7 linked regions of the Homo sapiens genome follow. The protein of the gene in region 1 interacts with the protein of each later gene in a pairwise test. Each region holds a gene or a part of one and is shown in the gene's direction. Other genes may lie near its edges.

What was found.
Region 2: the proteins of KRTAP13-3 (region 1) and TCP11 interact in binary tests that used the Homo sapiens proteins (3 or more experiments, as listed by UniProt).
Region 3: the proteins of KRTAP13-3 (region 1) and NOTCH2NLC interact in binary tests that used the Homo sapiens proteins (3 or more experiments, as listed by UniProt).
Region 4: the proteins of KRTAP13-3 (region 1) and PRKN interact in binary tests that used the Homo sapiens proteins (3 or more experiments, as listed by UniProt).
Region 5: the proteins of KRTAP13-3 (region 1) and MLX interact in binary tests that used the Homo sapiens proteins (3 or more experiments, as listed by UniProt).
Region 6: the proteins of KRTAP13-3 (region 1) and DNM2 interact in binary tests that used the Homo sapiens proteins (3 or more experiments, as listed by UniProt).
Region 7: the proteins of KRTAP13-3 (region 1) and RBPMS interact in binary tests that used the Homo sapiens proteins (3 or more experiments, as listed by UniProt).

Annotation. Positions count from the first base shown.
Region 1 is NC_000021.9:30,424,880-30,427,419, reverse strand, and holds KRTAP13-3 (keratin-associated protein 13-3), read left to right. Parts: upstream 1-1,493; 5' UTR 1,494-1,507; coding exon 1,508-2,026; 3' UTR 2,027-2,040; downstream 2,041-2,540. UniProt on the Homo sapiens protein: In the hair cortex, hair keratin intermediate filaments are embedded in an interfilamentous matrix, consisting of hair keratin-associated proteins (KRTAP), which are essential for the formation of a rigid and resistant hair shaft through their extensive disulfide bond cross-linking with abundant cysteine residues of hair keratins.
Region 2 is NC_000006.12:35,127,840-35,131,339, reverse strand, and holds part of TCP11 (T-complex protein 11 homolog), read left to right. Parts: intron 1-2,157; coding exon 2,158-2,278; intron 2,279-2,548; exon of another isoform or gene 2,549-2,762; coding exon of another isoform or gene 2,763-2,783; intron 2,784-2,920; exon of another isoform or gene 2,921-3,057; intron 3,058-3,500. UniProt on the Homo sapiens protein: Plays a role in the process of sperm capacitation and acrosome reactions. Probable receptor for the putative fertilization-promoting peptide (FPP) at the sperm membrane that may modulate the activity of the adenylyl cyclase cAMP pathway.
Region 3 is NC_000001.11:149,389,348-149,393,420, forward strand, and holds the start of NOTCH2NLC (notch homolog 2 N-terminal-like protein C), read left to right. Parts: upstream 1-1,273; 5' UTR 1,274-1,440; coding exon 1,441-1,575; intron 1,576-4,073. UniProt on the Homo sapiens protein: Human-specific protein that promotes neural progenitor proliferation and evolutionary expansion of the brain neocortex by regulating the Notch signaling pathway.
Region 4 is NC_000006.12:162,259,267-162,262,766, reverse strand, and holds part of PRKN (E3 ubiquitin-protein ligase parkin), read left to right. Parts: intron 1-1; coding exon 2-242; intron 243-3,500. UniProt on the Homo sapiens protein: Functions within a multiprotein E3 ubiquitin ligase complex, catalyzing the covalent attachment of ubiquitin moieties onto substrate proteins. Substrates include SYT11 and VDAC1.
Region 5 is NC_000017.11:42,565,700-42,569,899, forward strand, and holds the start of MLX (max-like protein X), read left to right. Parts: upstream 1-1,400; 5' UTR 1,401-1,425; coding exon 1,426-1,467; coding exon of another isoform or gene 1,468-1,629; intron 1,630-1,919; coding exon 1,920-1,956; intron 1,957-2,770; coding exon 2,771-2,860; intron 2,861-3,137; coding exon 3,138-3,244; intron 3,245-3,504; coding exon 3,505-3,604; intron 3,605-3,807; coding exon 3,808-3,907; intron 3,908-4,200. Other genes in the region: COASY (bifunctional coenzyme A synthase), read left to right, coding at 1-106, 207-269. UniProt on the Homo sapiens protein: Transcription regulator. Forms a sequence-specific DNA-binding protein complex with MAD1, MAD4, MNT, WBSCR14 and MLXIP which recognizes the core sequence 5'-CACGTG-3'. The TCFL4-MAD1, TCFL4-MAD4, TCFL4-WBSCR14 complexes are transcriptional repressors.
Region 6 is NC_000019.10:10,773,579-10,777,078, forward strand, and holds part of DNM2 (dynamin-2), read left to right. Parts: intron 1-2,124; coding exon 2,125-2,328; intron 2,329-3,500. UniProt on the Homo sapiens protein: Catalyzes the hydrolysis of GTP and utilizes this energy to mediate vesicle scission at plasma membrane during endocytosis and filament remodeling at many actin structures during organization of the actin cytoskeleton.
Region 7 is NC_000008.11:30,503,041-30,506,540, forward strand, and holds part of RBPMS (RNA-binding protein with multiple splicing), read left to right. Parts: intron 1-1,139; exon of another isoform or gene 1,140-1,245; coding exon 1,246-1,396; intron 1,397-3,500.

The DNA of each region.
Region 1 (2,540 bases):
ACGAAGCACGGCTGGGGAGGCTTCAGGGAACTTACAATCATGGCAGAAAATGAAGGAGAAGCAGGCAGTCCTACAAGGGAAGCAGTAGAAAGAGTGAAGGGGGAAGTGCTACACATTTTTAAACAACCAGATCTCATGAGAGCTAACTCACTAGCACGAGAACAGCAAGGGGGAAATCCACCCCCATGATCCAATCATCTCCCACCAGGCCTTCCCCAACACTGGGGATTACAATTTGGCCTGAGATTTGGGCAGGGACACAAATCCAAACAGTATCACTTTTTAAAAAGTATAAACAAGATTAAATATTTACAGATTTTCTGCATTTTTTCTCTTTCCAGAGTCTCCCCTGAGAGAGGCTGGGAGAGTTGTAAGATTTGGACATAGGTCTGGCCCAAGTGAAGGAGAAAGAGAAAGAAGTGCTTGAGACCTATGCAGGAGACAGTAGTTCTTTAAGGCCGTTGAGGAAACCCTGAGTCAAAGCTGGCCGTCAATTGTCTTCCAGGAATTCCTATATCCCACTGTGCTCAGTCTTTGCTTGGGAGCAGCCCAGAGAAAGCAAGCCTTCCCCAAAAATGCAGTGTTAACTTTTAGAACACAGCAGGTAGGACCACTGGTTATTTAAGCCTCCTGTAATTTAAGATCCGAGATGAGAATTCTCCAGGCTGCCACACATATGAATGAGAATCTCTTAGGACCATGGGCCTCATATTAGATGCATTGAATCTAAAATTCATTTATTTTTTTCTGTCATTTCAATGGTGTGTGTTTATTTAACACTTTAATTCTCTTCATAAGGCCCCAGAATTGTTTTTCATTTGTGATTGTCTCAGTTCCATCCCTTGCTGTCACCATGTCTCCAAATAATTGTCCAGGTTTCCTTCTGGTCATAGGCATCAATGTTATTCAATTTGTCTTGGCTCATACTTTTCCCTCTACACTGGATGTGAGACACAGTGAGTAACAGTACATAATAGATGAAGGAAACTTTTGTGGAATGAGAAAGGATGGTGACATGTAGGTTTAGTTTTCAGCAGGTTTCTCATTAAGGCCAAAGTTGTGTCTCTAATCCATTGACAAAAAAGACATGTAACTTTATCTCATTTCTCACTGTTTAGGGAAAATTATTGCCCATAACAGCCAATAACAAGACACATGAAAATTATGCTAGGAGGAAAAGGAGGTGCTTTCCTAGACATAATAAAATAAATATTAATACGAAACAGTCATAGCATTTCTGGCATAAGTGCAGTTCATTGGCTTTGTGCTATAACACCAAAATTATAGCACGCATAAATACAACATGTGGAAAAGTATTCAAATGCAATTACAGGCAAGATTGCTGAGCTACACATATGTAAATGAGGGAGCACAAAAATGTGAGGGATGACTCTGCTGTGCACCACACCTATTGCTGAGAGGATATAAATGACACTGTCCAGGATGCCACGTTAAAACTCAGAATCTTCCCAGGTACACTCAGCTGAACTCACATCTTCCCGTCAACATGTCCTACAACTGTTGCTCTAGAAACTTCTCCTCCTGCTCCCACGGGGGTTACTTGCACTACCCAGGCTCCTCCTGTGGCTCTTCCTACCCCAGCAACCTGGTCTACAGCACTGACCTCTGCTCTCCCAGCACCTGCCAGCTGGGTTCCTCTCTCTATAGGGGCTGTCAGGAGACCTGCTGGAGGCCCAACAGCTGTCAGACATTGTGTGTTGAGTCCAGCCCCTGCCACACCTCCTGCTACTACCCCAGGACTCACATGCTCTGCAATTCTTGCCTGACTATGCATGTTGGGTCTCGGGGTTTTGGATCCAATAGCTGCTGCTCCCTGAGCTGTGGATCCAGGAGCTGCTCCTCACTGGGCTGTGGATCCAATGGCTTCAGATATCTGAATTATAGAATCCATACCTCCCCTTCCCAGAGTTATAGATCCAGATTCTGCCATCCAATCTATTTTCCACCTAGAAGGTGGTTCCATTCATCTTGTTATCAGCCATTCTGTAGATCTGGTTTCTACTGACTAATGTGGTGACTGGTAAAACTCATTTGAGAAATGCATATTCTTTAGTAAGGTCATCTGTTAATTTCTTCCTTTGAGAAGTATTCTAATATTATTGATCACCAGGTCTTCCTTACTTTCCAGCCCTCAAAAACTGGGTTGTATGTTAGTTCTGTCAAACTGCAGTTTGGATCAATGAATAATCTATAACTGGATCAATCTGGATCTATAACTCTGGGAAGGGAAGGCATGGATTTTATAATTCAGATATCTGAAGCCATTGGATCAATGAGTGATCCAAACTGCATTATAGATATAATTTATAGTTTTTGTATTTCTTTCCAAAAGAGATAGGAAGTGAAAAAGATTTTATTTTAATAAACTCTTTATTCTTCTGTCCAAATGTGCTGTTAATATTGCTATTTATTAGTAAAGCATTGTCTAGGATGTGCATTGTCATTGCTTCTGGTAATGGGCTTTGCAATGCCCAGATTGTGGGATCTCCACACTAATTTTGGTTGGGCTTTAGATATTT
Region 2 (3,500 bases), on another chromosome or scaffold:
CGCCTCGGCCCCCCAAAGTGCTGGGATTATAGGCATGAGCCACCGCGCCCGGCCTTCTTTTTGTTTTGAGATGGAGTCTCGCTCTGTTGCCCAGGCTGGAGTGTAGTGGCACAATCTTGGCTCACTGCAACCTCTGCCTCCTGGGTTCAAGCGATTCTCCTGCCTCAGCCTCCTGTGTAGCTGGGATTACAGACGTACACCACTACACCCAGCTAATTTTTGTATTTTTAGTAGAGATAGGTTTTCACCATGTTGGTCAGGCTGGTCTTGAACCCCTGACCTCAAGTAATCCACCTGCCTCAGCCTCCCAAATCATTTTTTTATCATTGAATAATATTCCATTTTATGGGCAGTTTATTTATCAGTTGAAGGACATTTTTGTTGCTTCTAAGTTTTGGCACTTATGAATAAAGCTGCTATAAACATTTGTGTGCAGGTTTTCGTGTGAACATAAGCTTTCAACTCATTTTGGTATATACCCAGGAGCGTGATAGCCAGATCATATGTAAGAGTATATTTACTTTTGTAAGAAACTGCCCAGCTGCCTTCCAAACTGGTTGTACCATTTACATCTGACCAGCAGTGAATGTGAGTTCCTATTTCTCTATATCCTGGTCAGCCATTAGTGTTGTCAGTTTTCTGATTTTGGCCATTCTAATAGGTGTCATATAGCGGTGTCTTTTTTTTTTCTTTTTGTTGTTTTAATTTGCAACTCCCAAATGACAAATGATGTTGAGCGTCTTCTCATATACTTATTTGCCATCTGAACATCCTCTTTGGTGAGATGTCTGTTAAGGTCTTTGGCCTATTTTTTAATGGTTGTTCATTTTCCTATTGTTGCGTTTTAAGAGTTCTTTGTATGTTTTGGATATATATCCTTATCAGATATATATTTTTCAAAGATTGTTTCCTAGTGTGTGTCTTGTTTTTTTGTTCTCTTAACAGTGTCTTTCACAGAGCAGAAGTTTTTAATTTTAATGAAGTCCAACTTAGCAATTTTTTCTTTTGTGGATTATGTTTTTGGCATTGTATCTAAAAGGTCATCACCAAACTCAAGGTTACCTATATTTCCTCCTATGTTATCTTCTACAAGTTTTACAGTTTTGTATTTTACAAGTAGGTCTGTGATCCATTTTGAGTTAACTTTTGTGAAGAGTTTAAGGCTTGTGTTTAGATTCTTTATTTTTTTGTATTTAGATATCTAGTTGTTCCAACATTATTTGTTGAAAGACCCTCATTTCTAAATTGAATTGCCTTGGCTGGGTGCAGTGGCTCACGTCTGTAATCTCAGCACTTTGGAAGGCAGAGGCAAGTGGATTTCTTGAGCCCTGGAGTTCAAGACCAGCCCGAGCAACATAGCGGGACCCCCATCTCTACTAAAAATAAAAAAATAAAAAAATTAGCTGGCACGGTGGCTCATGCCTGTGGTCCCAGCTACTCAGGAGGCAGGGGCAAGAGATTTGCTTGCGCGTGGGAGGTTGAGGCTTCAGTGAGCCTTGATTGTGCCATCGCATTCCAACCTGAGCAACAGAGTGAGACCCTGTCTCAAAAAATAAAATAAAACAAATTTCCTTTGCTCCTTGTATTTTTTTCAAGGTGAAAAAAAAGACTTCTTTCTGGCTTCCATTACTATATAGATGGTAGTGCCACTGAAATTGGGAATACAAGAGGAGCAGGTTTGGAGGAGGAAGATAATGAATTTAGTTTTAGATACGCTGATTTGGAAATATCTGTGGACCTTTGGTATTTTCAAAGAAGCAATATCCTTTCCTAGATTTCAGGAGTATAAGAAAATGAAAGATCATTTAGCTCAATGCTATGTGTATACACAAATGGAAATCAAGTTATCTAGGCTAGATGCACAGTCAGTGCTAAAAGTCAGCCTGACTTCTCTCCATTCAGGGTTCTTTCTACTGCAGAGAGAGGGCTGCTCTGGAACCACAAGGAGCCCTTCTGAGAGGTTTTGCCATTGCCCTTGAAATACAAATCTAACCCTAGCTTGTTCAACTCTGCTGCAGTTCCAACATAGTTCCTGGCCTTTCCCTGTTATTATAATGGCCTTTTACCATATCAAATTCAGTTTGGGGTTTAGGAGGTTATGACACTGTAACTGTTTTTGGGTTGAGAGAGTAATCTGCTCATTTAACCCTCTTATAGTCTGGAAGGCAAGGTCAAGGAGACAGTGCACAATGCCTTTTGGGACCATCTTAAAGAGCAACTATCAGCAACTCCCCCTGACTTCAGCTGTGCTCTTGAACTTCTGAAAGAAATTAAAGAGGTGAGTGACCTTCCATTTGTAAATGTAAAGTTTCTAGACATCTCCAGCTCATTGGAGTGTCAGTGGCTAGCAAATCTTAACTGAACATGGTCCATGAATCAGTCAGAGACTAAGCAATAGACAGAAATCATACAGTAATTTTAGCAGGGAGGGTTTAATATAAAAATTATTATAACAGAGAGTAGGAGAAATGAGGGCTTGGCTAGTAAGAGTAAGGAAAACTAAAGAATCCTTGAATATCAGATAAAAGGGCATCTATCATACCCTTAGGGCTGAGAGAGGCCAACCAAGGACCTCATTTGAGAGGGCATAGCTATGCCATGAGACGTTACTGGCCTGTGTATGCTGCTGACCACAGTGCACTGCAGGAACCAAGCACTGGAGAAGCTATTCATGCTGCAGGAGCCAAGTACTGCAGGAGCCTGCTGAGTGAACATACCAGAACCGGGAATAAAAGCTCTTGCCTTTGCAATGTCTTTCTAGTATGTGGCAGACATACCGTAAGGTGACCCACAATGTTCTGCACCCTTGTATAATCTTCTCCCCTTGAGTGGATGAGATTTGCAACTTCTAAGCAGTACGGCAAAAGTGATGGGATATAACTCCCATGATTACATTTCATCATGTAATACTCTGTCTTAGGAGACTGGAGGGAGAGATTCTCCTGCTGGCCCTGAAGAAGCAAACAGCTGTGTTGTGAACTGCCTATCGAGAGGGCCACATAGCAAGGAGCTGCAGGTGGCTTCTAGGACCCGGGGTTAGCATCCAGACAATAGCCAGTAAGAAGCTGGGGCCCTCAAGTATACAGTTGTGAGGAAATGAATTCTGCCAACAATCTGAATGAGCTTGGAAACGGAATCTTTCCCAGTCATGTTTCCAAATGAGAATGCAGCCCAGCTAACACTTTGCTTGCAGACTTGTGAGACCCTGAACAGAGGACCCAGCTAAACTGCGTCTGTACTTCTGACCCACAGTAACTGAGATCATAAATGTGTGTTCTTATAAGCTGCTAGGATTATGGCAGTATGTTACACAGCACAGAAAACTAAATAACACTTTCTGCCGGTGAAGCTTAAAATGTGCTATCTGGCAAAGGAAAGATATGGAAAGGACTTAGTTCCATTTTCACAGAGCAAAGAACAATGGATTTGGATCTGTGAGGCAATATATTGATAAATGGCACAGTCCACCCCTTCGGCTACTCAGTTTCCACATGCGCTCT
Region 3 (4,073 bases), on another chromosome or scaffold:
ACCCCCTTTCCGTCCTTGACTCCTCTCACTGCTAACAGAGACAGAACTCATTTACTTACTCTTTTGACTGTACCTTTGCTTTCACGAGGGCTCTTTCCTGGAATGATATGTCCATACAACTATTGTTGTTGTTCTTACTTTTAGCTCTTTTCTTAGCCCACTTGTACCCAGGTTTGATCACACCCCCTACTCTCCTGCCCTGGAAGTAACTACTATTCTGGTTATAGTCTCTTAATATCTATATCTATATCTATATATATGCATCCACAGATAATGTGTAGTATTGTCTTGAAAAAAATATACATAAATGGTATACTTTGTCTCCCTCTGCGATTATTTTCACTATCATTTAGTTTTTAAGATTTATCCCTATTGACATAAATAGCTATAGTCTTTTCAATTACTGTGTTGCATTTCATTTTATAAATATACCATACATTATTCATCCATTCCTCTAAGGGTGGGCATTTATGTTGTTTTCAAGGTTTTGCTATTACAGTGTTACAACGAATATCCTTAGCTTAGCTGGTCTCCTTGTCTTATACAAATTTTACTGACCTTTCAAGATCCTGCTTTCATCCCAGCTCCTCTGGGAAAGCCTTCCCTGAATCCCCCAGCCCACAGCGGCAAAGTCTTGGTACTCAAAGTTGCTTGTGCATCTTTGGTATCATCCCACTGCCAAGCACACAGCTACGCAAAGTAAGGCACTTAAGAAATATTCGCTACACGGATGAACAAATGAATGAATGAATGGGGCAGCACCACTCCGTGATGGCTCTATTCCTTTTTAATGGACTTTGGCGCCTTGGCCCACTTTCCTTCTTTGACAGCACTGGTCCTACTCCAGAGCATTCCTCTAGCTAGCAAAGCAGTGTGTGGATGTGTGGGTGTAGGTGGCGATACAGACCTCACTGGATGAGGACCGCCTCTCCCTGCAAGTTCACGATCCCGGCAAACTCCAGTGCTTGAAGTTCAGAGTCCTACCCCACCCCCCTCACCTCCACGCCCCTTCTGCACTGGTCAAGCCAGCGAGCCGCTGCAGCCCTGATCGAGTTAAGGCTGCTGGAGAAGGATGCGGACGGGGCCAGTGACTCGTAGTAGATCCCTCCGCGCGGAGCTCGGGCCGGCGCTTCTTCCTGCGGGAAACCCCTGGGTGCCCAAGGCGGCGGGGCCGAGGCCGCGGCGACAGTGGGGCGGGGCTTGCGGTGGGAGGAGGCGGCTGAGGCGGAAGGACACACGAGGCTGCTTCGCTGCACACCCGAGAAAGTTTCAGCCAAACTTCGGGCGGCGGCTGAGGCGGCGGCCGAGGAGCGGCGGACTCGGGGCGCGGGGAGTCGAGGCATTTGCGCCTGTGCTTCGGACCGTAGCGCCAGGGCCTGAGCCTTTGAAGCAGGAGGAGGGGAGGAGAGAGTGGGGCTCCTCTATCGGGACCCCCTCCCCATGTGGATCTGCCCAGGCGGCGGCGGCGGCGGCGGCGGCGGCGGAGGAGGCGGCGACCGAGAAGATGCCCGCCCTGCGCCGCTCTGCTGTGGGCGCTGCTGGCGCTCTGGCTGTGCTGCGCGACCCCCGCGCATGGTGAGTATCGGGCTGAGGGGCGCTGTCCGCGGCGCCCGGGGCTGCCACCTGGGGCGACCCTTCTCCCCCTCGGTCCTTCTCTGTGTGGGAAGGCCAGGCTCGGCCGCCGGCGCGGAGCGAGGCCACTCGCTGGGTTCCCGAGAGTTTGGACATCGCCGGGGGCCCCTCCCGTGGTGCCCCGCCAACCGCCGGGGTTCCCCGCCAACCGCCGGGGTTCCCCGCCGCCTCTGCTCCCCGCGGCCCGGGACCCCTCACACGCCTCCTCGGCAGGAGGGAGGCCGGCAGCAAGTCTCAGAAACTCCTTTTTCGTAGTGCCAGGGTGCAGGGAGGTGGGCAGTTTTGCCCTTCAGGTTCCGCGTTTCTTGGGGTCGAGCGAGAGCCGACGGCGGGCCTCGGAGGGGCTGAGCGAAGGCGTGCCAGATTCTGGCGTGGAGAGCGGGGGCAGGGCCGCCAAGCCAAACGGCCTGCACCTTCGCAGCCAGCCTCGCCTTTGCCAGGGGGCGGCACATGGGCCGGGTGTGTGGGCTTGGTTTGGATGGGGACGGGGTTTTGCGGCGCGCCTGAGTTTTGACACTCCAACCCCACCGAAAGTCCGGAGGAGCCGGGTGTGCTGCTCGCGTCTTTGAAAGGTGGAGGCAGGAGAAGTAGGGCAACTGGTGTGGCTGCATGCTGAGGCACATGATTTAAAAATCTCAACTGCTGTTATTCTTTCCGAGGCGCGGAGCTCTGCTGCTGTTTCAGGCTGTGTCCAGACCCAGGAATGTGGTGTGACGATCACCAATTCCTCCAACCTGGCAGCAGCATTTGCTGCTCCTTTGGCATGGCTGGGGGTGGGGCACGGGCGGGTGAGAAAAAGTGGATACGTCAATTCAAAGGGCTTCCTTAGAAAGCTTCTTTATGGTTGGATGTTTCTAACACGGTTGGACCAAGGAAAGGGAATCAAATCATATCTTCCCCATCCCACCCACACTTTTAGATTCTACATTTCTTCAGACCCTTTAGTGGAAATAACTTGGGCTTTGGAGCCCTGCTCTGTAATCCTGGATTCAAATCCAGCTCTGCTATATGAACTCACCAATAAAATGGGAATGAAATTATCCAGCTAATAGGATTAATTAAAATAATGTATATTAAACGGATGACACTCCAAAGGTGTTCAGAAAGTCCTTTGAGGGCCGAGGCTGTGTTTTACTGCTTCTGAGATTGATGCTCCCAGTGGGATGGTGTCTTGTGCATATTTGTTGAACGGAAAGCAGCCCCTTCTTTTTCTGAGCCTAATCTGAATAAAGATTTTTACCTTCACCAAAAAACTAGTACATGAACTACATCTGTTTTCAAAGAAAAGGTTAGGAAGATGATGAGCTTCAGAAAAATATGGTCTTTGTTCATTGTTAACAGTCAGTCGACATGTCAATCGCAGATGTTTAAAAAGAGAACAAGGTTATTTATCACCCGAAAATAGTACTGGGTTGTTCAGCACCAACTAGATACTTCTTGGAAAGTTCAAATTTCGTACACGTCTAGGTCACTAAGAATTTCAGAAGTGGACCAGGAGGCTTTGTAGTGATGAAGCAGAGCTGTTGTTTCTGAAGCATTTAATAAAGAGCATATATGATGGTGTTTTTGCTTTTCCTTTTTCTTTGAATGAAAGCTTTAAGTGTAGCTTTAGGATAGAGAGGAGTATAATCAATGAGACAGTCTGAGGGTAATAATCCTTGGTCTATCATTAACTTGTTTTGGTAAATAACTTAATCTTCATGATATGTAGTCTCTTCACCTATGAAGCAGGACTAAAGGAATAACCTGCTTTAGAGAATTGTAGGGAATAATAAATATGATTGTAAAGTGATTTGAAAAATTAAGTATTGGCCGGGCGCGGTGGCTCACGCCTGTAATCCCAGCACTTTGGGAGGCCGAGGCGGGCGGATCACGAGGTCAGGAGATCGAGACCATCCCGGCTAAAACGGTGAAACCCCGTCTCTACTAAAAATACAAAAAATTAGCCGGGCGTAGTGGCGGGCGCCTGTAGTCCCAGCTACTTGGGAGGCTAAGGCGGAGAATGGCGTGAACCCGGGAGGCGGAGCTTGCAGTGAGCCGAGATCCCGCCACTGCACTCCAGCCTGGGCGACAGAGCGAGACTCCGTCTCAAAAAAAAAAAAAAAAAAAAAAAAAGTATTAAATAATATGTCAGAAATGGGATTACTCTGACACATAGGGCTTCTTTTATTATAGGATCTCAGTGCATAAAACTATGCCCTCCACCTCTGCTCTGCTGAGGTGCTGCGATTATTAGCTAGCTTTTAGGTAGTCAAGTTGAGTGTTAGTCAAGTTGACTCAAAGGATAGGATTTAGATATTTTGATTTTTAGACAGGTGTTCTTTAGATGCTAAACTAATGCAGTAGAAGAGATTTAGAAGCCTGTTTCTTGGTACAAATCTTAAATCTTCTTAGAGTCTACAGTGAAGGCTTCTTGAATCCTCTTAATTTATTATTGTGTT
Region 4 (3,500 bases), on another chromosome or scaffold:
GAATTGTGACCTGGATCAGCAGAGCATTGTTCACATTGTGCAGAGACCGTGGAGAAAAGGTCAAGAAATGAATGCAACTGGAGGCGACGACCCCAGAAACGCGGCGGGAGGCTGTGAGCGGGAGCCCCAGAGCTTGACTCGGGTGGACCTCAGCAGCTCAGTCCTCCCAGGAGACTCTGTGGGGCTGGCTGTCATTCTGCACACTGACAGCAGGAAGGACTCACCACCAGCTGGAAGTCCAGGTAATTGGAATGCTCTAAGATTATTAAAGCATTTTGTTTGTTTGTTTAGTGCAGTCTGCATGGAGCATGGCCTCACCGGGTGCATATTTAGTTTATGATACGTTTTGGATTGGAGTCTCTAATTCACTACAAGGAGACATCACTGTAGGTGGAGTACTTTGATGTAACATTTGAGAATGCATTTATTGTAAGTACTATGAAACAGGTTTTCATATTGAGATTAAATATAAGAGATATGTTTCTAGTGATGTAGAAAAATTCTAAAAAGCAGAAAGAACTCTAAAGCTAATCGAGCCATTTGTAGTTTCTAAAGCCAGATATGCCAATGGCAATGACATCCTTAGTGTGAAAGGACTCTTCCTTCTCTCTATGCTACCACCCATTTCAAAATGCTTTTCTTTGGCAAAGATTGTTATTGTTTAGTTATTTTAAAAAAATTAATATGTGCCTCTTAGTCTTTTATTCTCTAATCTAAATAGTCAAAGGTGTAATAGAATTAATTTTTACTGTGTTTGACAGAAGACACAAAATAATCACAATGACTTTACAGGGTAGAAGTTGATTTTCCTCCCACATACAATAGATCCTGGCAGTTGTGGGCTGGTATGGCCTTCACAGTGTCAGAAAGTTCTGGGGCCTGCAAGATGGAAGCCTAACATAATAAGAAATGCCTCCTACTAAACTTACTAAATAAAATTTAAGGAACTTAAAAATTTTCGATGATCTTGCAAAAAATAAAAAAAGATAATTTCCAAGGACAAGTGAAAATGTAGAAACAACATCTTTAAATACAGGAGTAGATAAGCCCAGAAAGTAAGGCATTAACTGATGCTCTGGTGATCTTGAGATGATTGTGGGAGGGAAAGAGGCTCTGCTTCATGTGAGCTGGGCACCTCAGGTCTGGAAAGAAAAATTGAGAAATGGAAATAAATGTCAAAAATGGGGAAAAATGAGATAAATCTAAACCCCTGCAATACTCTTGTGACCAGAATAATATATTAATATAAATATCGAACCCAAGCCCATAACAATTCTGACGTTTCAACCAGAGTATGTATAAGATCATTCTGACACTGACACCTCTAGAGAATACTCATGCTCCAACATTATAAACCAAACAATGGAAAATTCCACCTTGAGTGTGTATGAGACCAGAATATGCCACCCCAAAATATGCCACTTTAGCATAAGTATTATTTTAAGCTGATTATTTTGAGAAACAGTAGACACAGGAAAAGCTCTAAAAACAGAGTAGAAGTGACCCTTTTGTAAGGGAAATTTATATCTACCAAGGAAGTCTCCATTTGTAAGGGTGTCTCCCTCTCCTTACTAGGATGAGGAGGACAGAGTCTCTGGAGACTCTGATCCTTGAGAAGGCACCAACTGAATAATCTGCCTAACAAACCTTACTCTTGTCTTCTCCTCTCCCTTTCTTCCTTTGCCATTGAAGATGGTATTCAAGCCTGAATTTTAGGCACCTCTTTGAGATTTATGCATTTTTTCTGGGTGTCTCACATGTACAGTTGTCCCTCCCCATCAACAGGCAATACGTTTCAAATCCCCCAGTGTACGCCTGAAACCAAAAATGGTACCAAACCCTATATTTACTATGTTTGTTCCTGTACAACTGTATAACAGATTGGATTTATTATGTTAGGAGACCTATCTACTAGTTCTTTAATTTGATTTCCCAAAATAAAATTCTTACTAAAAATAAAAAAATCACATTGTTTAGAGCAAAATTAAACCTTTACTTATTATCTGAATATTAAAAACAATTTGAGCACAAGAATCCTGTTGTGTACATATTCATGTTCTTTAATACATTTCCTAGTGCATCTGGCTCTACTCTCTTATCAACCATATTCATCTGAAAATTTTAGTCTTCTTATTTTGTTTTATCATAAAATTGCCCTTGGTCTTCTCCAGAATTTTCTTTTATGAGAATGAACTTAGAATTATTGACACTTTCAACTGACTCTCTCTCTCTCTCTAGACCATAATATTTTAAGAAAATATAGTATTCTCTCTATATAGGGTCTGAAGTACCAGTAGGCACTGAGAAAATTCTGCTAAATGTCTAATATTCTCTTTATATTTTTAAATTGAAATGTGTGATTATTTCAACCCAAACAATAGAGAATAAATTCTAGTAAATTTATGGAATGTGGTAAATGACAGCAGCCTTCAGAGTACTGTATGATCTATGATGATGCGCTGTTTCACCTTGACTTTCCACTCATGTCTGAGTCACATCTAACCTCTGATCACCCTGTTTCTCATTTACCCCTCTGTCTTGTGGCCTGCCAGCCTTGTGCTTTTGGCAGGCTAGGGACTGGCTCAGGCAACTCTACATGGTGCAGTTGGGGGCTGCAGGGTTGCCATCCTAACACTTCTCCCTGCACCACTACACACTGGGGGCAACTTCCTGGCACCCTACATGCTGCTACTAAAAGGCCTCTGTAAAGATATGTTGCATCTGTAAAGATTGGGAAAAGAGAGATGGTGCATCCCAGGTCAACTTTCAGATTTAACTCTGTGTTAAACTAACAGCTAAACTACAAGTAATCCTCTCCTGCTCATTAGAACTGGAGGGAATCCTTTTCAGAACTCTTAGGACTCTCCCTTATTACTTGCTATTTTGTACTCCAGTTCTGACTTCACCTTTTAATCTCTTTGAGGATGGAGTTTTTGTCCAATTAACTGTAGTTTTCCCCAAAATCTCTTAGAAGAGTGGTGATACATGTTTACTAAATTGCTTCAAATTGTAAACATAGTCAGTCATTCAACAGAACTCCTGTGCATTTAGCTTTTAGAGCGAATGCTTTATTTAAAATTATACAGAGAAATTGAGATTTCATCTCTTCAAATGTCTTGGTTCATTCTTGGTTTGAGTTAAGACTGAATGGAATGATTTGAAATGACTATATGCAAACAGTATGCCTATATGATTATTTTTCTTCACTAAAAATGATAGCGTAAAGTTACTAGAGCAGAGATTCACAGACTCTCATGTGCAGAATTATCTTGCATGTTTTTCCATGTTTCTTTGATGGCCAGAATGGCGAGAAAAAAAATCTTCTTTCATTCTTTTTCTGTGACCAGAAATTTTGATGTATTTGTCTGGGGGTAGAGGCCCCAAAATGTTGGTACTGACCATACTCTGAGAAACTCTGCCCTATGGCTAAGGTTTTCCAGCCTTACAATTATGGATCCTACCTGTTGTTCTCACGGAACAATCGGACGCTGGGTGGGAGA
Region 5 (4,200 bases), on another chromosome or scaffold:
CGCGGCTCAAAGCCGGCTGCAGAGCCAGATGAGCGGGCAGCAGCTTGTGGAACAGAGCCACGTGGTGCTCAGCACCTTGTGGGAGCCGCATATCACCCAACGCCAGGTTGGTGCCCAGGGCAAGGCCGGGTTGTGGGGAAGGAGTCTCCAGTGGGTACTGCCTGACCCTGCCCTCTCTTCCTCCCAACATCCTGGCCTGTCTGAAGGTGGAGAAAGCCTGGGCCCTCTTGCAGAAGCGCATTCCCAAGACTCATCAGGCCCTCGACTGAAAAGTTCTCAGTGGGGCCAGACTGGCTCCTGGAGCTGACAAGCGACCCCGTGGTGAGGAGAAATGGGGGCCTTGATGCTCACCCTGGTTCAGGCCCAGAGGTCCAAGCTATACTGTGCAGGACATGGCCAGGCCTGGTGGACACAGGAAGCCTACCCAACACGCTGGTATTTGGCCAACACTGAGGATGTGGTTCATGGGGGAGCAGTCCCCTCCCCACTCTTGCCCATGGGTGACTCTTACCCACAGCTGACTAGGGCCAGCGCAAATACTGGAACCTGTAACAGAATTAAAGGTGAATGTTCTGAGATGTTGCTTGTATGGTGTCTGCTTCCTGTTCCAATGCCCCTAAGTATCTTTGGGATCCTTAAGCCACAAGTGCAGGGCCCAGGCCTGAGCTGGAAGCCTGGGCAATGCAGTGGTTAAGAGAATGGCCTTTGAGGCTAGCCAGAGGCGAGCTTTGGCCCTCCCACTGACCAGCTGTGTTCTTCTGAGTAAGGTGTAGACTTTCTAGGTACTGCCGTGTTTTATTGTTTTTGTTTTGTTTTTAATATGAGAGGCCGCATAACCTAGCTAGCAGGTTCTTTGCAAGGGTTCATTCCACATGCATCCTGCCAGACACTGGGCTGGGTGTTGGAAGATCAGCCTTCCGCGCGCCAGGCGGGGCCTCTGCCCTCACAGAGCTTGCAGCCTGGTGGGGTCGGACGATGTGGCTGGGGGCTTCTCTGCCCGGTTCCTGACACACCGGCCAGCAGTGCAGGTCCGGTGAGCGCGGGGAGGCCGCCCTCAGGGTAACGTGGGGAGCCGGCCGGCCGGACAGTGCGCGTGCACACACTATCTGCGGCGGTGTGCTGACAAGCCAATTGAGGGGACTCCATCTTACAAAACGCGCTTCATGTCGCCGCCATTCCACTGCCTAACCCGGGGAGGGCAGGCACGGCGGGGAGCAGTCTCGAAGGAGGCTGGCGCCAGGCCAAGCGCCGGGCCTTGACGGCTGGAACCGTGGAGTAAAGTCTTTGGGCTGCGCATGCGCGATGCTTCGCCCTGCCCCACCTCTCGGTCGCGGATTGGCGGGCGCGGGTCACGTGGGCACGCCACCCGCTTCCTCGCCGCAGGGGGCCCGCCCGCTGGCCCGTTTCCGGTCCGGTGGGTACAAGATGACGGAGCCGGGCGCCTCTCCCGAGGACCCTTGGGTCAAGGCAAGCCCCGTGGGCGCGCACGCCGGCGAGGGGAGGGCGGGTCGGGCTCGTGCACGTAGGGGGGCCGGAAGACGAGGGGCTTCCCTCCTGTCCCCAAAGTCCCCCACGCTCTCCGTGCCCCGGGGCTGCAGAGAAGACAGCTCTCACCCCGCGTGTGCCAAGGTGGGGAGACAAACGAGGCGTGTGCGCGCGAGTCGGGGGAACGGGGCACTGGGGTGGAGTAGGGGCGGAAGGGATCATACACAGGGGAGGCACTCGCACGCCCTAGCCTGTGCCAGTCTCGGGGGACTCATTAAGCTGCCCGCGCACCCCGGGCTGTGTGTGTGCAAGCGCGCAGGGTGACAGAGGCGCCTTCCCGGAATGGGGGGCGCGCTGTGCGTGCCTGCAGTGGAAGGGGCGCCTCCCCCTAGGGGCGGAGGTCTGACGGGCCCTTCCCGTGCTCTGTGCCGCAGGTGGAGTATGCCTACAGCGACAACAGCCTGGACCCCGGTGAGTAGCTGCCCCATCTTAAGCTCTAGAGGGACACTCCCGCCCAGGCTCTCTAGATTCTTGTGGCGTTGCCAACCACGCCTGAGCACAGTCCACTCTCCCTGAGCAGAGTTCCTGGCTTGAGACAGCAGGAGCTGAAGGACAAGGGCAGAAAACAACTGAGGGTGACACCTAGTTCCCTCTGCTCTGGAACAGGGAAGTGGTGGAACTGATCACTCACCACTCAGTGGAGCAGCTGATCACTCACACCCTCATCACGTCCACATGCCCGTTTGTGAGCCAGGGGGGTATCATGCAGGCCTATGGAGCAGTGTAGACACTAGGGAGCAGAGCACTGCAGCGTGGTCTGGCAGGAAGTGGGGGGCCCAGTATGGTTGGCTTTGGGTTGAAGGGAAGAGGTCAGCATTTAAGAAAGCCATTGTGTGGCCGGGCGCGGTGGCTCACCCCTGTAATCCCAGCACTTTGGGAGGCCGAGGCAGGCGGATCACGAGGTCAGGAGACCGAGACCATCCTGGCTAACACGGTGAAACCCCGTCTCCACTAAAAAATACAAAAAAATTAGCCGGGCGTGGTGGCGGGCGCCTGTAGTCCCAGCTACTCGGGAGGCTGAGGCAGGAGAATGGCGTGAACCTGGGAGGCGGAGCTTGCAGTGAGCCGAGATCGCGCCACTGCACTCTAGCCTGGGCGACTGAGCGAGACTCTGTCTAAAAAAAAAATAAATAAATAAAAGAAAGCCATTGTGTCCTACAGGTGTCTGAGGGTCTGGCAATGTTCCCCACCCCACCCCTTAGTGATTGGGGCCTCTCTTTTCCAGGGCTTTTTGTAGAAAGCACCCGCAAGGGGAGTGTAGTGTCCAGAGCTAATAGCATCGGTTCCACCAGTGCCTCTTCTGTCCCCAACACAGGTAGGCAGTAACATCCCCCCCGACCTCGGGGGGCTCAGATATGTCATAATTGTAGTACCTTTCCTAGACAGGGAAGCCCCAGCCATCCACACAGGGGTGCTGGAGCCAAAGTATCAGACACAAGGTCTCACCATCTTTCACCTCATCTGGAACATTAGGTGGTTCTGTCCATCTGCCTTCTCTGGACACCAGGTTCTTCCCAGCTGGGGAAAGGTGGGCTAGCTGGACCCCACTGGGCCCCAAGATGACCTTTCCCTGCCCCCATCTCTGAGCGTAGATGATGAGGACAGTGATTACCACCAGGAGGCCTACAAGGAGTCCTACAAAGACCGGCGGCGGCGCGCACACACTCAGGCTGAGCAGAAGAGGAGGGACGCCATCAAGGTGAACAGGGAGGCCTGTGCCTCAGCCAGTGCGGGAGGGCCCTGCATAGTTTAGCTTCCCTGTGCCCTGACCCACTCAGACAGTCCCAGGCACCCTAGGGGGTGGGCAGGTAGTATAGTCCCAGGCACAAACACCTCCCTTGCAGCCTTCCCACCCCATTGAGTTTGTGAGCATAGAACTTGGTGTCATGGAGGAACTTTGTGCCATTTTGCTTTAATCTCTCAGGGTTAAAGAACCCATTTCCCCTGCTGTTTCCACAGAGAGGCTATGATGACCTTCAGACCATCGTCCCCACTTGCCAGCAGCAGGACTTCTCCATTGGCTCCCAAAAGCTCAGCAAAGCCATCGTTCTACAAAAGAGTATGGCTAGGGAAAGCACTGGAGGGGATGGAGCCAAGCGGGGCTGTGAAGAGGCCAGTGCCTCCTACCCACCCATGGCTCGGCCTTGGTGTGGTGATTGCCATGGGATAGTTGGGGTCTGGGGTAAGGGGAACAAAGTCAGCCTTATCTTCTTGGTTGAGAATACTTCTGTACCTGTCCTTTTTTTCTTGCCCCCACCCTAGCCATTGACTACATTCAGTTTTTGCACAAGGAGAAGAAAAAGCAGGAGGAGGAGGTGTCCACGTTACGCAAGGATGTCACCGCCCTAAAGATCATGAAAGTGTAAGAGGGGTGCTGAATGGGGGGAACCAGAACTTCTGAGGCAACTTCATTGCACACCCTCCCTTGTTCAAAGGCCACATCAGTTACTGCTGTACAGATAATACTCTTAGTTCCTGAGCTAGCCAGTAGGACTGTGTATCCCCAACTGTCCTTACACATGGCAGACACTCAGGAAATGCCTGTTGGATTAATGTAAGGAAGGTTGGAGAGAGAGGGCCACCTTTCCTGACCTGGAAGCAGTATCTCCCTGATACTGAACCCCACCCAGAAGCTCTCTGGGGCTGCCATTCCTG
Region 6 (3,500 bases), on another chromosome or scaffold:
GCTGGGATTACAGGTGTGTACCACCCTGCCTGGCTAATTTTTTTTTTATTTTTTATTTTTTTTATTTTTAGTAGAGACGGGGTTTCACCATGTTGCACAGGCTGGTCTCGAACTCCTGAGCTCAGGCAATCCACCCACCTCAGACTCCCAAAGTGCTAGGATTACAGGCGTGAGCCACCACGCCCAGCCCATTCAGCTACTTTTTTGTATTTTTAGTAGAGATGGGGTTTCACCATGTTGGCCAGGCTGGTCTCGAACTCCTAACCTCAGGTGATCGCCTGCATCCCCCTCCCAAAGTGCTGGGATTACAGGTTTTAGCCACCTTGCCCAGCCAAATATCCTGATTTTAAAACTCTGCATTCAAACAGCAGCCCGGGGCCATAGACATCCTCTGGCCCAGAGGCACAGATTGCTACCATGATGGGTTCCTTGCGATAAGTTTTAAATTTGTTTTTCAATAAATGACACCTGCATGTGGCTCAGAATTCAAAAATTACAGAAAGGTATATCGCAAAAACCTACCTTGTCAACCAGTTTTGCACACATATTTTAGGTTCTTCAGATGACAATGCAAACATGAGCTGGGTGTGGTTTCACACACCTGTCATTCAAGCTGCCTGAAAGGCTGAGTCAGGAGGGTCACTTGGGCCCAGGAAGTCGAGGTTGCAGTGAGCTATGATCACATCTGTGAATAGCTACTGCACTTCACCTGGGTAACATAGCAAGACCCTCTATCTTAAAAAAAATGTGTAAGCAAAAAACATGTAAGCAATTGTGATTGTATCTATGTATATGTTGTGTATGTGTTTATCACTCCTTTTCCTTAAATTGTTAGCATAACATAAAAATCACTTATGCTTTTTTTGAGATGGAGTTTCACTCTTATTGCCCAGGCTGGAGTGCAATGGTGCAATCTTGGCTTACCGCAACCTCCACCTCCCGGGTTCAAGTGATTCTCCTGCCTCAGCCCCCTGAGTAGCTGGGATTACAGGCATGCGCCACCTCACCCGGCTAATTTTGTATTTTTAGTAGAGACGGGGTTTGTCCGTGTTGGTCAGGCTGGTCTCGAACTCCCGACCTCAGGTGATCGCCTGCCTTGGCCTCCCAAAGTGCTGGCATTACAGGTGTGAGCCACTGCGTTGGCCTATGCTTTTTTTTTTTTTTTGTATGCCTCTCAGAATGTTTCTTTATTATATATTTATTTTTTTTTTTTTTTGAGACAGGGTTTAACACTGTTGGCCAAGCTGGAGTACAGTGGTGAGATCTTGGCTCACTTCTTCTCCTGGGCTCAGGCGATCCTCCCGCCTTAGTCTCCTGAGTAGTTAGGACAACAGATGCACACCATCATGCCAGGCTAATTTTTTATATTTTTGGTAGAGGTAGGGTTTCGCCATCTTGCCCAGGCTGGTTTCGAACTCCTGAGCTCAAGTGATCTACCCATCATGGCCTCCCAAAGTGCTGGGATGACAGGCATGAGTCACCGCGCCTGGCCTCATCCATTTGTCTTTTGTTTTTGTTTTTTTGAGACAGTCTTGCTCTGTCGCCCAGGCTGGAGTGCAGTGGTATGATCTCAGCTCACTGCAACCTCCACCTTCTGGGTTCAAGTGTTTCTCATGCCTCAGCCTCCAGAGTAGCTGGGAGTACAAGTGTGTGCTACCACGCCCAGCTAATTTTTGTATACTTAGTACAGATGGGGTTTTGCCATGTTGGCTAGGCTGGTCTAGAACTCCTGGCCTCAAGTGATCCACCCACCTCGGCCTCCCAAAGTGCTGGGATTGCAGATGTGAGCCACCGCACCCAGCCTCATCTGTTTGTCTGTAATGGTTCTTTGGTATTGGCTGAATGGATGGGCTGAAATTTATTCAGTCATTTAGGTCTATTCCAGTCTGAACTGTCCTGATTTAGAACTGTGCCATTGAAATGGAGTAGGTAGAAGGTATCTGTAGGATGGGATCCTAGAAGGGGAGTTACTGGATCAAAGGTGTGGTTCAGGCAGAGTGTCAGGCGACATCCTCAAGTCTGAGCCCCGCGCAGGAACTTTGGTAGTCAGCTGGGTGGCTGCGGGCCTGTTTGTGCCTCCCCTCTCCTGGCTCTGAATGCCTTTCCTTCTGGTTTCCCTCCCAGTGTTGAACTTGACCCTCATCGACCTCCCGGGTATCACCAAGGTGCCTGTGGGCGACCAGCCTCCAGACATCGAGTACCAGATCAAGGACATGATCCTGCAGTTCATCAGCCGGGAGAGCAGCCTCATTCTGGCTGTCACGCCCGCCAACATGGACCTGGCCAACTCCGACGCCCTCAAGCTGGCCAAGGAAGTCGATCCCCAAGGTAACCCTGAGCCTAGGGCAGTCCCCTCTTCCAGGTGCCTCTGAGCATGGGATGTGCCCAGCATCCTTGGTTCCAAGTCACTGGCGTTCTCTTTAATCCATGGCCGCTGTAGGAAAAGGCCTCCTGGAACATGGCACTTCCTCCGAGAACCAGCAGTGCTGGTGGGCATCCCCTGGGAAGTCACTGTGTGGCAGTTGGACGGTCCTCCTTGGACATGGCAGTGCCCATGTTGCCAGAGTGGGAAGCTAGCCTAGGGCTGAAGGAAGGGCCCAGCGCTCCATCGCCCAGATGCGATCTTAGGTCCCATCTAGCTGTTACTCTGCTCCCTGAGACATGGTCCCCTCTTAGTCAGAACGGGAACTTCAGTCCTAACCCAGATAGCTGATGTGAGGACTGTTGAACTTTTGGGTTGTTTCTGATCTTTGCATGGTGAGATCGTCTATTTCCCTTCGAGTTGACACCCCTGGGCCCCTCTAGTCAGATCCTTCTACTGAACCCTCACTGCAGAATGTGAGCAGGAAGGGGCCCCAGGGAGGGCACAGCTGTGGCCCCCTTGATGCCCAAATTGGCACCCACCAGAGATCTTCACTCTGGCTTCCATCTGTCCCCAGTGTCTCATGCACATGCCACACATATAACACACACGGTTAGCACAGAGCCAGGCCCTCAGCCCCCGTGGGAGCAGTTGATCTGCAGAGGTGAGACTTTGCTAGAAAGACATCCTTGACTCTGGAATGACTTGTGGAGAGGTGGAATTGGATGGGATGGTTTCCAGAGTGGAATTTTAGCCATTCAGGCAAGAGGTAGTCCTGGAAACAGTCGTGTCAAACTCAAATGTTCCCTTGGGACTTTGCCGGCACTTGGAAAGTCCAGCATCAAAATCTGGCCCAGGAATCATGTTTACGTGAGGTTTCCCAAAGCCTGCAGCAGCAGAGGTTGTCCTTAATAACACAAATGACAATAACGGCCAGCATTTGTTGAGTATTTGCCGTGTGCCAGGCTCACCCTTATGACCACCCTGTGAGATCAGGGCTGTGACCATCTTCATTCGACATGTCGGAAACTGGGGTCCAGGCCTGTGACGTTCTGGCTTTCCCAGGTGATGTGACCTGGAAGTTTCAGGGCCAACTGGACCCCAGGTGGCTTGCAGCTGCCAGCTGATGCTCTTTCCT
Region 7 (3,500 bases), on another chromosome or scaffold:
GAAGTTCCACCCACTCCAAGACTTCTGGGTCAGGGCTCTGTGGCTTTTGTTAGGCCTCCCTAAGGACCTCTCTTTCCTTCCCCTTCCCCCCTTGTTTCCTGTTAATGCCATTACCATCCAGCCACAGGCTCTTCCTTGTATACTTGAAGCTGAGCCTGTGAAGTTCAGAGTTGTTCATCCTGGTCTCTAGAGTAAGAGAGTCTTGTTTTTGTGGATATTTCTTTTTTTGAGACAGAGTCTAGCTCTGTCACCCAGGCTGGAGTGCAATGGCGCGATCTTGGCTCACTGTACCCTCTGCCTCATGGGCTCAAGCAATTCTGTCTCAGCATTCCAAGTAACTAACTGGGATTACAGGTGCATGCCGCCACGCCCAGCTAATTTTTTTTTTTTTGTATTTTAGTAGAGATGGGGTTTCACCATGTTGCCCAGGCTGGTGTTGAACTCCCGAGCTCAGGCAATCCACTCGCCTCGGCCTCCCAAAGTGCTAGGATGACAGGCATGAGCCACAACGCCCTGCCTGCTCTTATTTTTTTTCAAGCTCATTAGGAAGAATGGTGGCGAGGGGGCGGGGGATGCTTTGGAGCCCTCAGGCCCATGTGTGTACATTCAGAACACTAAATGGCAACTGTGTTCTTAGGAGACTCGTTTTCAGGACTCCAGTCCCTTTCCAGACCACACCATGAAAACATGGGAACTGAGTGGGTCCCATGGGTGCACATTTAAAATACACTCTCTTGGGATATCTTTTTGACACGTAGGGTCCAGAATTCATGGTATTGGATGCTTAATAATGAAGACATTCTTGAATGGTGGAAAGGTTCCAAATAGACTTGTCTTGCGCTAGTGTCTTTCATAGTGTCTGTGATTTGTTTTACTGAATATAATCTATTTTAGGTAAACTGCAGGAATAGGGTCAGAGGTAACTGAAATTACTATATATTAAAGTGTGTAACTGTGCTAGGAATTTGCTGGTTCAAATTTTAAACTGAAAAGTTTTTGTCTAAAAAGAAAAGGAATAGTTGAAAATCTGTGTAACTACATTTTTTAACTAAACTAAATCCCACTGACTTTCGGGACACTTTGTGTTGTCATTTTTCATGTAACCTGTGTAAGTAGTAAGAATGAGAGTGGTTGCTGACCTTTTTTCCTGATAGACCAGGGTTTACTGGTGTGTTTATTTTGTCACCATTCCGGTTTGACTCAAAGGAAATGAAAACATCTTCCATTTGTTCTCTGTTTCCAAAGGGCATCCGCTTCGATCCTGAAATTCCGCAAACACTACGACTAGAGTTTGCTAAGGCAAACACGAAGATGGCCAAGAACAAACTCGTAGGGACTCCAAACCCCAGTACTCCTCTGCCCAACACTGTACCTCAGTTCATTGCCAGAGAGCCATGTAAGTCGATCTACTTTTCATTCAAAAGTAATAATAACTAAGAACTGTTCATGTGCTGCATGTGAGGTTACACCATGGGACATGGAGCTGGCTGAGTCTTATTTTCCATTTCTGTGAAGAGGTTGCCTAGGCGTTCTTGGTGTCAGAATTCCAAATACAGCAATCTTGTTTGTGATTGGCTTCCCAAAAGATGGTTCAGCTTGAATAGAACCATAACTTCAGAATATCATTTGATGTACTACAGATTTCCTTAATGTTATATTGACCATCATGAGTATGCCCCTAGTTGCCTTGGGTATAAACCCTTCATTCCCCCCTGCTCGGACACGAGAGCTGGTTCTCAGCATTTACTTTAATCCATTTGTTGAAGGACATCAGCTCGGTGGCTTTGGAAAAATAGGATATTAAAAGAGAAAGAAGCAGATCTTGGGAATTTGGTTCTATTCAGTTTAGCCATAACTCTAGGGGGAAAAGTAAACACATACAAAGAATGTATATATTGGAACTGTCAGTCTAGCAAACTAATACCAGTAAAACTTTAAGGAAATTTGGGGCTTTCTTTTCCAACTTAATTGGATAAGGACACTGGCTAATTGCTCAAGACGTCTTCTACCCCACATTAATAAGCTTATTTCATTATATGTCCAGACTACCATTTCTGCCTTTCCCTGAATAACTTTAAAAGATTGAATTTGCTTTCTCAAGCTCAGTCAGTGGCAGAAGTGGGGCATGAGACAGGCCTTAACTTCTCCTTTCATTGCAGAGCCATATGTGATTTAATATGGCAGGGCATTCAAGGAAACCCAAGTGACTTGGATTCCAAGTTATTTGGAATATTTCTGTCCTGTTGTTTTTGGTCTGCTTTCTAAACCACACGGTTGTGATCTTCTTCCTTCGATAGTACATTTTAACTCTTCTTATTGAAATTGAAGGACACATGGATTCCTTGCTCCCCCCATGTCATGTGCATGTCAGATTTAATCAGGTTATCTTTGGAAGTCACAGCCATTCTGTAGTTCAGTCACTCTTGGTACTCATCAGTAGAAACTAACAGATAAGTCTCCCTGAATGTTCTAAAATAAATGTTTCTATGAATCCAGAAAGTCATAATAGATTAAAAAAAATTATTTTGTTCTTTCACCTTCTTTGTCCCAGGGAAACTAGAAACCTTTGCTTATTTGGGAAGGAAATCTAAACAAAAGTTACATCTTACAGTGTACTTGTAGTACAGGAGGATATAGGAACATCTTTTACATAATTCTTCATCCTTATAGTATCTAGCTTAATACTTTGTATATTGTATATATTTAATATTTATTATAGTGAGTGGATAAATTGATACTGAAATTGGGCTACTTGTAGAACTGTAGATGCATTTGTATGCCTCTTCTCTCTGAAATTTCTTCTCTCTTGATCAAGGCATCAAAAAAGAGTATTTTTAGGATGCCTGATTTAGTAAAAATAACCTAAAGTAATTCTTTGCCTTTTTAGTGAATTTGCCAGCCTCAGATCTCAGAGTTCTTTGAAAAGATTAATTCAGGCAGGAAATGTAATGCTGGTGATACTTAACTTTACCTTTTCAATTCTTTGCTGAATGCTCTTTTTAACAGGACCACGAAACTTTTTCTGAATTTCCTACAACAGCCCTGTGAAATAGGTAGCCAGGAAGGTTGTAGCCAGATTACGACATGCTATACAAAAGCAACAAATAGGAACAAACTGGACATTCACAAGTCCCTGAAGTTACAGGAGAGCATAGAAACTGAGCTTAGAACTCTTTTCTGGCAAGCTCTGCTCACCTCCCTTCCCAGCATACAGAACAGTGCAAAAATGGCCAGATAGTTTCCATGACAGGGTAAAAACTTGCCCAGCTGTTCACAGCAACACAAATTTGAAGTTTAAAAAAAAAAAAAAAAAAAAAATCCAAGCAGCCAGCAGTGTATTCTTGAGGAAAATAAAAGTCAGCATGATTTATCTTAATATAGCTCATTTTTACGACACAGCATCTTGAGGAGAGCAAGTCCACTATGGCTCAGGTCAACCTTATTATCCATTGCCATTCCCTCTGGGAACTGGGAACTTGACCGTCACATACAACTTGCTT